3 separate regions of the Homo sapiens genome follow, and regions 1 and 3 are each linked to region 2. The links come from fine-mapping of genetic effects on gene expression. A gene starts in region 2. Each other region holds a variant in brackets. All regions are shown on one strand. Distances are between the middles of the regions.

Region 1 (5,637 bases), 190 kb after region 2:
CATGTGCAGATCATGTTTTACCCAAGGATTTGAGGAGATTTATGTGCAAATTTTGTGGTTTTATCCTTTCTAGGATTCCCTGTCATTTTCCAGCCTCTGGTTGCCCCAAACTCTGTCTTCTGTTTCCTCAAACCAGTAAGTTCTGCAGCTTTCTGCTTGATTTCCAGCTGTTCCTGCTGGCCATACTGTCTGGAGATTGCCCTCTGACCAAGACAAATTTTACCTGGTATAATTCCCTTCTTTTCTTTCCTTTATTTTCCCAAATATAGTGGCTTTAAAAAAACGCAATCATTTATTACTATTATTATTGTTGTTCTCTCTCGTGGTTCTAGGGGTTGATGAGACTCAATTGATGCTTCTTGCTTGGGTCTCCTATTGTAATCAAATAGGGGCTGGGGGTCATCTTGAAATCCCCCTCAGTCTCATCGGTGTGGTGATTGATGCTAGCTGGCTGTTGGCTGGGACTCCGTTGGACTGTCAGATGGAACACTTACATATAACGTCTACTTGGGCATTCTCAGGATGGCTGGTTTCCAAGAGCAAGCATCCTGAGAGTGACAGCCAGATGAAAGCTGTATTATCTTTTATTTCCTAGCCTCAGAAATCACATAATGTCACTTCTGCCACATCCCACTCATTGAGGCAGTCACAAAGGAGAGCCCATATTCAAAGCATAGGGTATTAGACATCACCTTTTGAGAGGGGAGTGTCAACTAATTTTCAGACAGATTTTAAAACTACCAAACCTTCAAATGTCATGTCCCCTCCAGTTTCTGCCTGCTTTTGCTCATTCTTTGGTACTTTGAAATAGTTGGGTATTTATCTAGAATTTATATTATTATCTAGTAGTCCAGTACAAACTATTCCATCATTACCAGAGGTAGAACTCCCTCCCCTATTTTTTTCTCCATAGCATTCTCACATTTAATATTATTTACTTATTGACTTCGTTTATTTTCTGCATCCTCCCACTAAGCTCCATTAAGTTGGGGTTTTTTTGTTCTGTTTTGTTTTGTTTGTCCCTTTGGTAAACTGCTAGGCATGTAGTAGGTGCTCAGCAAATATTTGTTGAATTAATGATTGGCTGAATCTTTACCTCTCCAAAACAGCCATAGGTAAATAAAAGCCTCTTAATGACAAAAGAGGACCTATACGTTTTACAGCCTTGTTCTTTCAGCACGGTTGTACTGGTAGAGTGGCATACCTAAGGTTCACTCCTCCTTGGCCTACAGAACAGGACTTAGAGATTTTGACAGTTCATTCTTCTTTTTTTTTTCTTTTTTTTTTTTTTATTATACTTTAAGTTCTAGGGTACATGTGCACAATGTGCAGGTTTGTATACATGTGCCATGTTGGTGTGCTGCACCCGTTAACTCGTCATTTACGTTACGTATATCTCCTAGTGCTATCCCTCCCCCCTCCCCCCACCCCACGACAAGCCCTGATGTGTGATGTTCCCCTTCCTATGTCCAAGTGTTCTCATTGTTCAATTCGCACTTATGAATAAGAACACGCGGTGTTTGGTTTTCTGTCCTTGCAATAGTTTGCTCAGAATGATGGTTTCCAGCTTCATCCATGTCCTTACAAAGGACATGAACTCATCCTTTTTTATGGCTGCATAGGATTCCATGGTGTATATGTGCCACATTTTCTTAACCCAGTCTATCATTGATGGACATTTGGGTTGGTTCCAAGTCTTTGCTATTGTGAACAGTGCCGCAATAAACATACATGTGCATGTGTCTTTATAGCAGCATGATTTATAATCCTTTGGGTATATAACCAGTAATGGGATGGCTGGGTCAAATGGTATTTCTAGTTCTAGATCCCTGAGGAATCGCCACACTGTCTTCCACAATGGTTGAACTAGTTTACAGTCCCACCAACAGTGTAAAAGTGTTCTTACTTCTCCACATCCTCTCCAGCACCTGTTGTTTCCTGACTTTTTAATGATCGCCATTCTAACTGGTGTGAGATGGTATCTCATTGTGGTTTTGATTTGCATTTCTCTGATGGCCAGTGATGATGAGCATTTTTTCATGTGTCTGTTGGCTGAATAAATGTCTTCTTTTGAGAAGTGTCTGTTCATGTCCTTTGCCCACTTTTTGATGGGGTTGTTTTTTTTCTTGTAAATTTGTTAGAGTTCTTTGTAGATTCTGGATATTAGCCCTTTGTCAGATGAGTAGATAGCAAAAATTTTCTCCCATTCTGTAGGTTGCCTGTTCACTCTGATGGTAGGTTCTTTTGCTGTGCAGAAGCTCTTGAGTTTAATTAGATCCCATTTGTCAATTTTGGCTTTTGTTGCCATTGCTTTTAGTGTTTTAGACATGAAGTCCTTGCCCATGCCTATGTCCTGAATGGTATTGCCTAGGTTTTCTTCTAGAGTTTTTATGGTTTTAGGTCTAACATTTAAGTCTTTAATCCAACTTGAATTAATTTTTGTATAAGGTGTAAGGAAGGGATCCAGTTTCAGCTTTCTACATATGGCTAGCCAGTTTTCCCAGCACCATTTATTAAATAGGGAATCCTTTCCCCATTGCTTGTTTTTGTCAGGTTTGTCAAAGATCAGATAGTTGTAGATAAGCGGC[A/G]TTATTTCTGAGGGCTCTGTTCTGTTCCATTGGTCTATATCTCTGTTTTGGTACCAGTACCATGCTGTTTTGGTTACTATAACCTTGTAGTATAGTTTGCAGTCATGTAGCTTGATGCCTCCAGCTTTGTTCTTTTGGCTTAGGATTGTCTTGGCAATGCAGGCTCTTTTTTGGTTCCATATGAACTTTAAAGTAGTTTTTTCCAATTCTGTGAAGAAAGTCATTGGTAGCTTGATGGGGATGGCATTGAATCTATAAATTACCTTGGGCAGTATGGCCATTTTCACAATACTGATTCTTCCTATCCATGAGCATGGAATGTTCTTCCATTTGTTTGTGTCCTTTTTTATTTCGTTGAGCAGTGGTTTGTAGTTCTCCTGGAAGAGGTCCTTCACATCCCTTGTAAGTTGGATTCCTAGGTATTTTATTCTCTTAGTAGCAATTTTGAATGGGAGTTCACTCATGATTTGGCTCTCTGTTTGTCTGTTATTGGTGTGTAAGAATGCTTGTGATTTTTGTACATTGATTTTGTATCCTGAGACTTTGCTGAAGCTGCTTATCAGCTTAAGGAGATTTTGGGCTGAGACAATGGGGTTTTCTAAATATACGATCATGTCATCTGCAAACAGGGACAATTTGACTTCTTCTTTTCCTAATTGAATACCCTTTATTTCTTTCTCCTGCCTGATTGTCCTGGCCAGAACTTCCAACACTATGTTGAATAGAAGTGGTGAGAGAGGGCATCCCTGTCTTGTGCCGGTTTTCAAAGGGAATGCTTCCAGTTTTTGCCCATTCAGTATGACATTGGCTGTGGGTTTGTCATAAATAGCTCTTATTATTTTGAGATACGTCCCATCAATACCTAATTTATTGAGAGTTTTTAGCGTGAAGGGCTGTTGAATTTTGTCAAAGGCCTTTTCTGCATCTATTGAGATAATAGTGTGGTTTTTGTCTTTGGTTCTGTTTATATGCTGGATTACATTTATTGATTTGCGTATGTTGAACCAGCCTTGCATCCCAGGGATGAAGCCCACTTGATCGTGGTGGATAAGCTTTTTGATGTGCTGCTGGATTCAGTTTGCCAGTATTTTATTGAGGATTTTTCCATCGATGTTCATCTGGGATATTGGTCTAAAATTTCTCTTTTTTTGTTGTGTCTCTGCCAGACTTTGGTATCAGGATGATGTTGGCCTCATAAAATGAGTTAGGGAGGATTCCCTCTTTTTCTATTGATTGGAATAGTTTCAGAAGGAATGGTACCAGCTCCTCCTTGTACCTCTGGTAGAATTTGGCTGTGAATCCGTCTGGTCCTGGACTTTTTTTGGTTTGTAGGCTATTAATTATTGCCTCAATTTCAGATCCTGTTATTGGTCTATTCAGAGATTCAACTTCTTCCTGGTTTAGTCTTGGGAGGGTGTATGTGTCCAGGAATTTATCCATTTCTTCTAGATTTTCTAGTTTATTTGCGTAGAGGTGTTTATAGTATTCTCTGATGGTAGTTTGTATTTCTGTGGGATCGGTGGTGATATCCCCTTTATCATTTTTTATTGTGTCTATTTGAGTCTTCTCTCTTTTCTTCTTTATTAGTCTTTCTAGCAGTCTATCAATTTTGTTGATCTTTTCAAAAAACCAGCTCCTAGATTCATTGATTTTTTTGAAGGGTTTTTTGTGTCTCTGTCTCTTTCAGTTCTGCTCTGATCTTAGTTATTTCTTGCCTTCTGCTAGCTTTTGAATGTGTTTGCTCTTGCTTCTCTAGTTCTTTTAATTGTGATGTTAGGGTGTCGATTTTAGATCTTTCCTGCTTTCTCTTGTGGGCATTTAGTGCTATAAATTTCCCTCCACACACTGCTTTAAATGTGTCCCAGAGATTCTGGTATGTTTTGTCTTTGTTCTCATTGGTTTCAAAGAACATCTTTATTTCTGCCTTCATTTCATTATGTACCCAGTATTCATTCAGGAGCAGGTTGTTCAATTTCCATGTAGTTGAGCGGTTGAGTGAGTTTCTTAATCCTGAGTTCTAGTTTGATTGCACTGTGGTCTGAGAGACAGTTTGTTATAATTTCTGTTCTTTTACATTTGCTGAGGAGTGCTTTACTTCCAACTATGTGGTCAATTTTGGAATAAATGCGATGTGGTGCTGAGAAGAATGTAAATTCTGTTGATTTGGGGTGGAGAGTTCTGTAGATGTCTATTAGGTCCGCTTGATGCCGAGCTGAGTTCAATTCCTGGATATCCTTGTTAACTTCTGTCTCGTTGATCTGTGTAATGTTGACAGTGGAGTGTTAAAGTCTCCCATTATTATTGTGTGGGTGTCTAAGTCTCTTTGTAAGTCTCTGAGGACTTGCTTTATGAATCTGGGTGCTCCTGTATTGGGTGCATATATATTTAGGATAGTTAGCTCTTCTTGTTGAATTGATCCCTTTACCATTATGTAATGGCCTTCTTTGTCTCTTTTGATCTTTGTTGGTTTAATGTCTGTTTTATCAGAGACTAGGATTGCAACCTCTGCCTTTTTTTGTTTTCCATTTGCTTGGTAGATCTTCCTCCATCCTTTTATTTTGAGCCTATGTGTGTCTCTGCATGTGAGATGGGTCTCCTGAATACAGCAACACTGATGGATCTTGACTCTTTATCCAGTTTGCCAGACTGTGTCTTTTAATTGGAGCATTTAGCCCATTTACATTTAAGGTTAATATTATGTGTGAATTTGATCATGTCATTGTGATGTTAGCTGGTTATTTTGCTCATTAGTTGATGCAGTTTCTTCCTAGCATCGATGGTCTTTACGTTTTGGCATGTTTTTGCAGTGGCTGGTACCGGTTGTATCTTTCCACGTTTAGTGCTTCCTTCAGAAGCTCTTTTAGGTCAGGCCTGGTGGTGACAAAATCTCTCAGGATTTGCTTGTCTGTAAAGCATTTTATTTCTCCTCCACTTATGAAGCTTAGTTTGGCTGGATAGGAAATTCTGGGTTGAGAATTCTTTTCTTTAAGAATGTTGAATATTGGCCCCCACTCTCTTCTGGCTTGTAGAGTTTCTGCCTAGAGATCCG
Region 2 (5,637 bases):
GCTACTGCACTCCAGCCTGGCGACAGACTGAGAATCCGTCTCAATAAATAAATAAATAAACAAAGCTGTGTATCTGGTTTTCTATACTTTCCAGGTCAAATCTCACTAGCAGATGTTCCTGTTATCTTCAGTTTGACATCTTATCTAAAATGACTCCTAAAATGTGTAATAATGTTAATTATAATATCTAAACCTACTGACTCTAACATCACAAAGAATTTTAAGAGGTCGAGGTTAAAAATCTAAAATTGTAAGTCATCAGCTAACAATGACATTTCAAGTCATGAGCTTGGATAAAAATAACCATGGAAATCACCATTCAGCAAAATACAGGCATAGTGGCCAGGCGTGGTGGCTCACGCCTGCAATCCCAGCACTCTGGGAGGCCCAGGCAGGAAGATCACCTGAGGTCAGCAGTTTGGGACCAGCCTGGGAAACATGGTGAAACTCCGTCTCTACTACAAATACAAAAATGAGCCGGGCGTGGTGGCGGACGCCTGTAATCCCAGCCACTCAAAATCGCTCGAATCAGGGAGGTGGAGGTTGCAGTGAGCTGGATGGCGCCACTGCAGCCCCGCCTGGGCAACAAGAGTGAAACTCTGTCTCAAAAAATAAATACACACACATACACACACACACACACACACACACACACACACACACACACACTCTCGCATACAGGCATAGGATAGTTTGCTATAGTTAACAAACATAAGAATATCCTATTTTCTTGAGCTTTCATCAGGCTTTACTTTGCCAGAATACATCTATCCCATTTTTCAGTAACTAGATCTAGCTACCACATTTCCTCAGTTTTAACGTGTGTGTTTAAAGAGACAGGGTCTTGCGTCGCTCAGGCTGGAGTGAAGCAGCGGGATCAAAGCTCACTGCAGCCTTTTTCTGTCTATAAATCTTCAACACTTGGCTGCGCTGCAATCTCTCTGAGCCTGCCCGATTCGTGAATCATTCTTTGCTCAAAATGTTAAATTTAACTTGGCTAAGGTTTTTCGTTTAACACTTCCTACTAACGCTACAGCCTAAAACCTCTCCTGCAAAATGCTTTTTCAGGTGGCAACGTACCAATTCTAACAAGTTTGTGGGAGTAATGGGGAGGAGGGCTAACCCTCTATTTTCTTTCAGAAAAAGGGTTAGGCACAAGGAGCTCTAAAGGCTTGTCCGAAGTCTGCTGAAAACTCACAAACCACTCAGAACCAGGTTTCCCACACCCAATTAATTCCAAGTGGTACTGTATCCGATTACCCCCATTTTCCAAGAGATAGTTTATTTTTTCCCCTCTTTTCCCCTCCCCACTACACTTTCCACTTAGCCCTTTTTGAACTGCAAAATAACCTCTCAACTCCCCTCACCAGACCATTCTCTACAGAGCAAATTCATCTACGAGATCCAAGACGCAACTCCCACCGCCAGGCGGTCGCCTCAGAAGGGTAAGCAGAAAGCATGCCCACTTGGCCACTTTTACAACTTATTTCTGCTCAGAAATGCACCAACTCAACTACCCGGTAGATAAGGCACCAGCTAGCAGAGACCTCTTGCTCATTTCCTCTTGTACCTTATAAAATGCCCGCTTTTTTGCTCCAAAGACGAAGCGGGCTGGCTTCAGAAATAAAATCCCTCTTCTTGTATACTAGGGCTCGCTCTTGTTAATTGGTGTCTACGTGTGGCGAGCAACTAACTCTCTTTTCCGTTAGAGCACTCAAAGCCCTGGTCAATCTACCCCCCAAGACAGCAGAGACCAGCACAACGATCCCAAGGAAGGCTGTTGGCTTCACCCCGCTTAAGTCCTCAAAGTCAGCGCCTGCAGCATATCCTTGCCCCCACCACCTGCCTCTAGCTCTGGTCACTTACACTTACGGTTAGTTCGCATCCACTGTAACAGCGCCTGGCGGTCGGCAGGAGCCACAGTGCGAAGCGGCCGCAGCATCACTGCCTGCCTCGCAGTGGGAAATTTTACCTTGCTGGAGCAAGCCGCGCAGGCACTGGCTGGCATTGCGCATGCGCAAGCAGAGACCGCCCCACCCTCCGCGGAACAAGCCTCCGGTCTGCAAAGCCCTAAGCCCCGCCCCTCTACGGAGGTCTCACGTGCGCCTGGGGATCCCTGCCTTCAGTCACACCTCTATCTCTCATCTTTCCGCTCTTAGCTGGGAGTGCTCCGCCTAGTCACTTTTCTTAAGGTGGCTCGTCGAGGCCTGACTTCTTCCCCGAAATCACGTCCCTAGACAGCCTCCTATTTTACCACTAACTTTACTCCTGCAGTTATTCAGCGGTAGGAAACTGAAACCAAAAACCAGTGTAAGCAAGTAAACATCTAAACTGTTTCAGGAGCCGCGTAGAAGGAACGCGGCGGTGTGCCCCGGAAGCGGAAGTAGATTCTCCTATAGAAAGGCTGGACTACGCGGAGTGGTGACGTTTCCTCATTGGGCGGAAGGTTCGCTGGCACTCCGTTGGTCTTCCAGCTGGTGGGAGTTGACGACGTGGTGCTGGGCGTTGGGACCCTACTTTATCTAGTTCGGGAAGTTGGGTTGTGGGGTCATACCTGTCTGTCTGCTCCCAGCTTTCTTGGGTTTCTTCCGACGGCGTGGGGCCTCGCTAAGGAATTCCCGGCCCCTCAGGGCCACGGCTTTAGCGGTGTCTTTTGCGGTAAGTGTCTGCTTTTTCCCGCCCCAGACTACGGAGGGGGAGCGAGGGGCAGCCCCAGCGCTGCTCAGGAGGCGAGAGACTCCGGGGGAAGTCGGCCTCCGTGGCCACCGGCCATCGTTACCGAGACTGAGTTTCTGTGGCTCTTTATCTCGTCTTCCATGAGAAGTTTTATTAAAGATGCGCTGTGCCCCTTTTGAGTTGTCTTCCGATTTACCTGAGCCAAATAAGATGTAGGCAGTTGCAGGCCTGAGTCTTCGTTTTGCTTTCCTGAGCAAGAATTTAGATGAAGCTACTTCCCCGAAAATCCTTTTACTTGTACGAGACTTTTATTTTTCCTATGTGTTTGTAGTGCTTAACACAATGTCCTGCGTGTAGTAGACGTTCAATAAACGAATATGGAATATCAGTTGAATGCCAATGATGATTTAAGATAGACTGATAGCTCTCTCTGTACCATTTGACGCTGCTGACCATCCATTTCTTGAAACTTTCCCCTGCTGCCTTTCTTCATGCTATCCTCACCTGATTCTTTCACATGCTTAATTTAACAAAATATATACTTGTTCTTGGCTACAAGGATACAGAAATGAATAACACTAACTCTGCCATTGAGAAGCTAACGCACATAAATACACATTATATCAAGATGGGTAATGAGAAACACTAGTTGCATATAAAGAGCTGTAGAAAGCTGTGGGAGAGCTAAAGTGCTCCTTAGGTGCTTTGTGACCCTGAGCCAGTTTCTATTCCAATCTAGCCTCAATTTCCTCATCTACTTAATAGGCTTGTTTTGAGGAAGAAAGGAGATTAGGTAAGAGGTTTGGTTTGGTTTAGTGCCTAGAATACAGCAATCGTGGTGCCAAAGGGGAGGGAAATATTTCCCTCAAATCGCTTTTTCTCAGTTTTTTGATATGGCCAACTGGTATTTTCTACCTTAATATAGAGTACTATGCAAAAGCATCTTCAAGTCTTCCTTCCAGATTACTCCTCTGTCCCCATCTATTTGGAAATTCTGGACCTGCCACAGGATTACAGTAAGATAACCATAAATGTAGCTTTTTAAAAATTGATTTTCTCCTATGTGCCATGGAGAAAGGGAAAGGGAATTAGTAAAAGCTCCTATCTCTTTGGTTATTTTCAGTCTTGGTTAACGCCGTCCTTTTAGTTGGCCCTCAGTCATTGCTATAACCCAAATGGTCTTCCACAGGCTCTCCTCGAGGCTTCTCGCTTGCTTCCATGGCATTGTCCCTATATGCCAACCATGTCCAAACCTTATTCTTTTCATTTCCAAACCTTGTTCTTTTCCAAACCTTATTTGCTCTGTCGCCCAGACTGGAGTACCGAGGCACCATCTCGGCTCACTGCAACCTCCGCCTCCCAGGTTCAAGCAATTCTCCTGCCTCAGCCTTCCGAGTAGCTGGGATTACAGGTGCCTGCCACCACGCCCAGCTAATTTTTGTGTTTTTAGTAGAGATGGGGTTCCACCATGTTGGCCAGGTTGGTCTTGAACTCCTGACCTGAAGTGATCCGCCTGCTTCGGCCTCCCAAAGTGCTGGGATTACAGGTGTGAGCCACCATGCCCTGCCTAAACCTTATTCTTTAGCCTCCATCTCATGAGTTGATAGTTCTGTACTTTCCCCTAAAACTTGCAAACTCATTAGGTCCAAAACCAAATGCACTGTCTTCACCTTCCTTTTTTTTTTTTTTTTCACTATGACATATGTCATGCATACGAAAGTGTATAAAAGCAGTGATTGTCAGTGCGTTTTTGAGTTTTGACCTCTGGTTGAATTTTGTGATACAAGTAGGTTAAATTTTTAAAAGGATTATAAGGGCTGTGAGCAATGGCTCACGCCTGTAATCCCAATACTTTGGGAGGCTGAGGCTGGCAGATTGCTTTAGCTCAAGAGTTCGAGACCAGCTTGGGTAACATGGCGAAACTCCCTGTCTCAACAAAAGAGACAAAAATTAGCCAGGCTTAGTGGCGCCGCCTGTAGTCCCAGCTAGTTGGAGGGATAATGAAATGAACATCTATGTACACATCCTTCATAAAAAGTGAAACATTAAAAATAATACATTAAGTCCCTTTGACCTCTTCTCTATTAACTCCTCTGACTTTCAAACCACCTTCCCTTTTTGCCTTCCATTCATTGGTTAATGGCATCACTAGCCATCTGGTTATAAAAACTAGAGATATTGGAATCATTTTTGCCTCTTTTTTCCTTCACTTGCCATAACCATTTGGTCATTAGATTCTGCTTCATGAATTAGCCCTTAACCCTAGTTTCTTTTTCTCTAGTTCAAGGCCACATCTTGTCTCAACTAGCCTTATGGAGTATGGGTAGTGCATGTAGTGTCCTGGCTCTTCAGTTTTTTCCCTCCAATGTATTTGTTACACTGTATCTAAAGATGTTTCTAAGGTATAGAACAGATTTCTCATTCTGTTGTTTTCTTTGGGACATGTTATTAAATACTTAATATAGTGATTATGAACCCTTGCTGCACATCAATATAGCTAGTGAAAGTTTTCAAAACATAAATGTCTTGTTTTGCACTCCAGATTAAGAATTTAGATGAAGCTACTCCCCCTAAAACTTTTTTACCTTACTATCTCTGGAGAGTCTGATTGAGCATTTAATTTTTACTGATAGGCATTATCTAAATGTCATTGAAATAACGCATTGCTTGAGCATATGCCTCTTATCCCTCCTTTTCCTTTTTTATTTTTCACTTTTCCTTTTTCTTTTCAATGTTAAGGCCAACTTTCCAAGGAATTCTTTTGATTTTCGTTTTAATTTTCTTCTTGGTAGCATTTTATGTAAAGATTCTTTTTATGGTTGACCTCATAGCCAGAAAGTATCGTAAAGAAATGATTCCCAGTGTTCCTGAGTTATTACCTCTTGTTGCTAATTGACTTTTTTTTTGGTATACCTTTTTTGCTGCAAAAGTACGAATTGGTGCTGTGATATTATTTTACAT
Region 3 (5,637 bases), 44 kb after region 2:
TTTAATGGTTGAATATTTTCTCAATATGTGTTTTTACATTATTAAGTTTAACATTTCTTTGTACATTTACTGGTTTGAATTTACTTTGTGAATCACCTCTTCATGTTCCCTGTCCAGTTCTTCCATTTTTCCCCCTTATATCTTTGTAATAGCTCCTTAAAATCTTTGGTTTATGTCTTCAAATATTTTCCCCCAGTTTTTCATTTACCTTTTATTTTTATTTATATTTTATAATGAACAGTAGTTGCCCTTTTTAATGTAGCCAGCCTATCTTTTTTTATTTCTTTTATGCTCATAAACAGCTTCCCCTTGTTTATTTTTTCCTTTTTTTTTTTTCTTTACAGAGGTAATCAAGTTAACCTTCTCCATGTTGATACCACAGTTGTCACCATTTTCTTCTTTTTTTGAGACAGAGTCTTGCTCTGTCGCCCAGGCTGGAGTGCACTGGCATGATCTCAGCTCACTGCAACCTCCGCCTCCTGGGTTCAAGCTATTCTCCTGCCTCAGTCTCCCGAGTAGCTGGGATTTCAAGCACGTGCCACCATGCCCAACTAATTTTTGTATTTTTAGTAGAGACTGGGTTTCACCATCTTTACTGGCCAGGCTGGTCTCAAACTCCCAACCTCAAGTGATTCGCCCGCCTTAGCTTCCTAAAATGCTCTGGGATTACAGGCATGAGCCACAACACCTGGCTTCTACTTGTTTTTGTTTTTATTTTGTGTTTGACTTTTTAATCTCAATTGAATTTATTTTGCTGTGTATTATGTATCGTAAAAAGATAAGGTTTTCCAAAGACTTCCAACTGTTCCAGTCCTCTTTTTGATTTTTTTCTATAATGTAAACAACTAATTCAGAGTCTGTGAAAATTTGCCTTGAAACCCATTAAAATGAATTTATTGTTTCCAAAAATATTAATTAGACAAGCTCTGAATATGAACAATACCATTGAATAGCTTCTAAAAGAATGAGTATTTCCAGATGTTTTAAATTACCTTTTGTCTTTGAAGCTTTCCTTATTTTCCTTGCGATATCCTATTTTCTCTTTTGTGACAAAAAAATTAGACAAACATGTTGAAAATTGGTTATAATTCCTACCATCACATGCTATTTCAGATAGTGACTAATAAACACATTACATCACTGTAATGTCTTTCCCATGTAGTCCTGACTGTTCTTGATAGAACAGATTCACCATCCAGATCTTATCTATGCATTGATCCCTCAATAAAGGAATAACCCAAGATGAAGTTGGCAGTGGGTATACACACAGCTATGTCACACCAAACTTGAAATACTTTTTAGAAGTTTTAAATGCTGATAAACAAACTCTTAGGACAAATCACTAATGAGCATGGAATTCCCATCTTCTTCAGATTTATTCATCATAAATGGTTTTCACAGATTTTATCATAAAAACATAATCTTCTCTTTCATTCATAGTTTATAATTCACATGATTTATTCACATTAACCAGCTGTGATTGGAGAATCAGGAGGAGCTTTGAGTCCCATATTTTATAAATGCTTCTGAGAAGTACCATAGTTAATGCCCCTTTCAAATAAATAATTTTGGATGGTTGTGGTGGCTCATACTTGTAATCCCAGCACTTTGAGAGGCCAAGGCAGGAGGATCCCATGAGCCCAGGAGGGCAAGGCTGCAGTGAGCCATGATCAGAGCACTGCATTCCAGCCTGGGCGACAGAGCAAGAGCCTGTCTCAAAAAAAAAAAAAAAAAAATTGTTGAAGCAGTTCTATTCATTGTTGTAGTGATGATCTCTTGCTTTCTTTTATGAGTACAGCTGTTGTCTAAAGGGTGTTTTTATCTATTCTGTTGTTGTTTTTTTATTTATTGTTGTTGTTTATTTTTTGTTGTTTTTTGTTTGTTTGTTTTGTTTTGTTTTGAGACAGGGTCTCGCTGTGTCACCCAGGCTGGGGGCTGAAGTGCAATGGCATGATCATGGCTCACTGCAGCCTTGACCTCCCAAGCTCAAGCGATCCTCCAATCTGAGGCCCCCAAGTAGCTGAGACTACAGACGCATGCTATCACACTGAGCTAATGCTTTTTTTTGTTTTTTTTGTAGAGACAGGGTTTCCCCATGTTGCCCAGGCTGATCTTGAACTCCTGGGCTCAAGTAATCAGCCTACCTTCGCCACCTGAAGTGCTGGGATTACAAATGTGACCCACCTCACCCAGGCTGCATCTCTTTCATTGACTGCCCTTTTTACTATGGTGTTTTGACATAGTGTAGAAATTCCTTGACAAGTGAAGTTGCATTATTTGTCTTTGTATTCTCTGAAGGTTTTCATTACTTAAAGAAAACTTCTGGCCAGGCGCTGTGGCCTACGCCTGTAATCCCAGCACTTTGGGAGGCCAAGGCGGGCAGATCATGAGGTCAAGAGATCGAAACCATCCTGGCCAAAATGGTGAAACCCTGTCTCTACTAAAAATACAAAAATTAGCTGGGTGTGGTGGCTCATGCCTGTAATCCCAGCTACTCGGGAGGCTGAGACAGGAGAATGGTGTGAACCCGGGAGGCGGGGGTTGCAGTGGGCTGAGTTCGTGCCATTGCACTCCAGCCTGGGTGACAGAGCTAGACTCCATCTCAAAAACAAAACAAAACAAAAAAAACTTCTTAGATACATACACATCTTCACGTTCTCTCAGACTCATACTTTACTTTCTACTTTCTTTTTTTTTTTTTTTTCTTCTGAGACAGAGTCTTGCTCTGTCGCCCAGGCTGGAGTACAGTGGTGCGATCTTGATTCACTGCAACCTCCGCCTCCCGGATTCAAGCAATTCTGCCTCAGTCTCCTGAGTAGCTGGGACTACAGGCGTGTGCCACCATGTCTGACTAATTTATTTTGTATTGTTAGTGGAGACGGGGTTTCACCACGTTGGCTAGGCTGGTCTCGAACTCCTGACCTCAAGTGATCTGCCAGCCTCGGCCTCCCAGAGTGCTAGGATTATAGTTGTGAGCCACCACAGCCAGCCCAACAGACTCATACTTTCATATTCATCTACCAGCCATCCAGTCTCTTTGCTAATTAACCCATGTCTATAAACTCAGCTTTTTGTCCAGCATTCCCCTGTATCACTATTAAGCCGTTGTTATAGCTTACTATTAAAAACTGCTGGCTGACCAGGTACGGTGTCTCACACCTGTAATCCCAGC[A/C]CTCTGGGAGGCTGAGGTGAGTGGGTCACGAGGTCAGGTGTTTGAGACCAGCCTGGCCAAGATGGTGAAACCCTGTCTCTACTAAAAATACAAAAATTAGCTGGGTGTGGTGGCGGGCACCTGTAATCCCAGCTACTTGGGAGGCTGAGGCAGGAGAATTACTTGAACCTGGGAGGTGGAGGTTGCAGTGAGCCGAGATCACGCCACTGCACTCTAGCCTGGGTGACAGAGCAAGACTCCATCTCAAAATAAATAAAAAATAAAACACTGGGTACAATTTTGCTAATAGTGGCTTATTCACAGATATAAATAAAGTATTAGCATAAATCGTAGCCTTAAAAAAGCCTTTTATATGTCCTTTTATATAGAATTTTACATGGTCTTCAAAAAATAGTATGTAATTGAGAAAAAGATTAGAAGGGAATATGTAGAAATAGAAAGAATTATGTTAGAGTGATAGGATTATGTAATTTTTTCTTAGTATTTTCTCAGTTCATCAAACTTTCTATTATACCCTGATTATACTGATTATATTACCTCCTACGCTGACTCAAAATCTTTTTTTTTTTCCCCTCAGGTGGCGACATGTCTAAGAATGTGAGCCAGTCACAGATGGCAAAATTGAACCAACAAATGGCCAAAATGATGGATCCTAGGGTTCTTCATCACATGGGTAAATACCAAGTTGTTGGCAGTTGCTAATGCAGTTTAATTTATAAGGGTTGAGTTTTAATGATAAGCCTTTTATTGTAATATTATGAAAATATGTTCAAAAGGTGTGTGATTTCAGGGAAATGGTCATCTGAATCCTAAGTTGAATTCAATTGTAATAGGGCTTATTAGCTGAGGTCTTATTCACTCCTCTGCTGCCATCTGTGTGATGTTTGAGCAAGCTATTTAATCATCTTTTGTTTGTTCTGGTGACTTTTTCCCTTATTTTAGAACCTGGATATTTTTACTTATATGACTGAGGATTTTTAACCTGAGTTCTACTTTGACTATATAACCTTTACAAAGTTCCTTAAACTTTCTGAACCTCACTTTCCCCTTCGGTAAAATCACAGATCATATCTCATCAAGAAATTGTGACAATTAAATGAGATAATATATATGAAGACATTCAGTACAATTCTGGGCATATAGTAGATGTTCAATAAATGAATTATTTTCTTTTTGTAAGTCCTATGAAATAATCCCCTATTGATTATTTTTTATGTAACTTAGAGTAAGACCCTTTTGGATTTATAAGAAAAAAATTTTTTGTTTAGATTTATTGACTATGTGACCGGTAGTATCCTAAGATCTTTTTATGTATCACCTCATTTATTCCTCGCAATAACTCCGTAAGATAGGCTATTCATTCTCTTTTATTGATGAAGATAACTGGTGATAATACAAATTTTTAGGTGGTACGTTCTTTAAGGCTGATGACTAAATTGCAATCAGAATTCAGTATTTTTAGAAGTACTTATTAGGCAAAAGTAATAAATGTTTCCAGTTCTGCTTAATAATTCTCTGTTTTTAACTCTACTTCCCTACTTTTGCTCTAGGTGGTATGGCAGGACTTCAGTCAATGATGAGGCAGTTTCAACAGGGTGCTGCTGGCAACATGAAAGGCATGATGGGATTCAATAATATGTAAAGAAAATGCCTTAATATAAACTGACTCAGTTGAATACCTAATTTGCTGAGACCTCAGCGTTTCCCTTCTTTTTGCGAATTGGGGGGAAAGTGTATTTTTCTTGCTTATCATGCACTCTTTCCTTTTCTTCTCGCCCGCTTTTCCCCTCCTTTTCTTTTTCCTTCCTTCTTTCCTCCCTTTAATATAAGGGAGAAATACATGGTTTTTGTGGAAATCATTATATGTTTGCTTTAGATTTTCTTCTGTTTTCACCATCATAACACTTAAGTTAAATCATGATGTAAAATTTTAGTACTTAAAGGTTTTTAATTATCTCGAAGGCCAAGCATTGCATTTGTAAACAGTCCTGGTCAGTAGTTAAATAATGTTTCAATTAAAGTGCTGTAAAATAAACTTCAAAGTGGTTATAAGTTAAGGGGTTGTTAACTTTCTTTATGGTTAAACATTATCAGTTTATCACACTAAAAACTCAATGGAAAAGCCAGTAGATAAATGTCATTTAAAACTATGCCTGGGGCCGAGCACGGTGGCTCACGCCTCTAATCCCAGCACTTTGTGAGGCTGAAGTGTGGATCTCTTCAGCCTGGGTGACAGAAGGAGGATCACCTGAGGTCAGGAGTTCAAGACCAGCCTGGCCAACATGGAAACCCCGTCTCTACTAAAACTACAAAAATTAGCTGGGCGTAGTGATGCATGCCTGTAGTTCCAGCTACTCGGGAGGCTGATGCATGAGAATCTCTTGAACCCGGGAGGCAGAGATTGCAGTGAGCCGAGATCGCGCCTCTGCACTCCAGCCTGGGTGACAGAGTGAGACTCTGTCTCA

Alleles and levels. Positions count from the first base shown, and alleles are read on the strand shown. Sizes are in standard deviations (SD) of each study's normalised expression.
For the expression in CD4 T cells of the gene that starts at base 2,435 in region 2, G is the high allele of the variant in region 1 and A is the other (moderate effect, 0.64 SD a copy in Kasela 2017).
For the expression in testis of the gene that starts at base 2,435 in region 2, allele C in region 3 goes with a higher level than allele A (small effect, 0.18 SD a copy in GTEx).

Evidence for each region. PIP is the estimated chance that this variant, and not a neighbour inherited with it, causes the effect.
Region 1: its variant is the best candidate, but not a certain one, in a credible set for the expression of SRP54 in CD4 T cells (Kasela 2017, PIP 0.61).
Region 3: its variant is the best candidate, but not a certain one, in a credible set for the expression of SRP54 in testis (GTEx, PIP 0.61).

What each region holds. Positions count from the first base shown.
Region 1 is chr14:35,173,474-35,179,110 of GRCh38, forward strand. The region is part of intron 4 of PRORP (protein only RNase P catalytic subunit); the gene reads left to right. All of the region lies in intron 4 of PRORP-PSMA6 (PRORP-PSMA6 readthrough), which reads left to right. Among named protein-coding and RNA genes, the nearest start is that of PRORP, 54 kb to the left of the region's middle. The variant A/G (reference allele first, on the strand shown) is at 2,589.
Region 2 is chr14:34,980,558-34,986,194 of GRCh38, forward strand. It overlaps SRP54 (signal recognition particle 54), which reads left to right and starts at 2,435. Exons shown (of 16, transcript NM_003136.4): 1 at 2,435-2,658. It overlaps SRP54-AS1 (SRP54 antisense RNA 1), which reads right to left and starts at 2,009. Exons shown (of 5, transcript NR_151701.1): 1 at 1,867-2,009. RefSeq lists a silencer at 406-700 and enhancers at 1,586-1,635, 1,754-2,455, 1,846-1,935, 2,116-2,615, 2,646-2,905.
Region 3 is chr14:35,024,339-35,029,975 of GRCh38, forward strand. It overlaps SRP54 (signal recognition particle 54), which reads left to right. Exons shown (of 16, transcript NM_003136.4): 15 at 3,750-3,845; 16 at 4,723-5,229. The coding sequence ends at 4,814. Among named protein-coding and RNA genes, the nearest start is that of FAM177A1, 19 kb to the right of the region's middle. The variant A/C (reference allele first, on the strand shown) is at 3,173.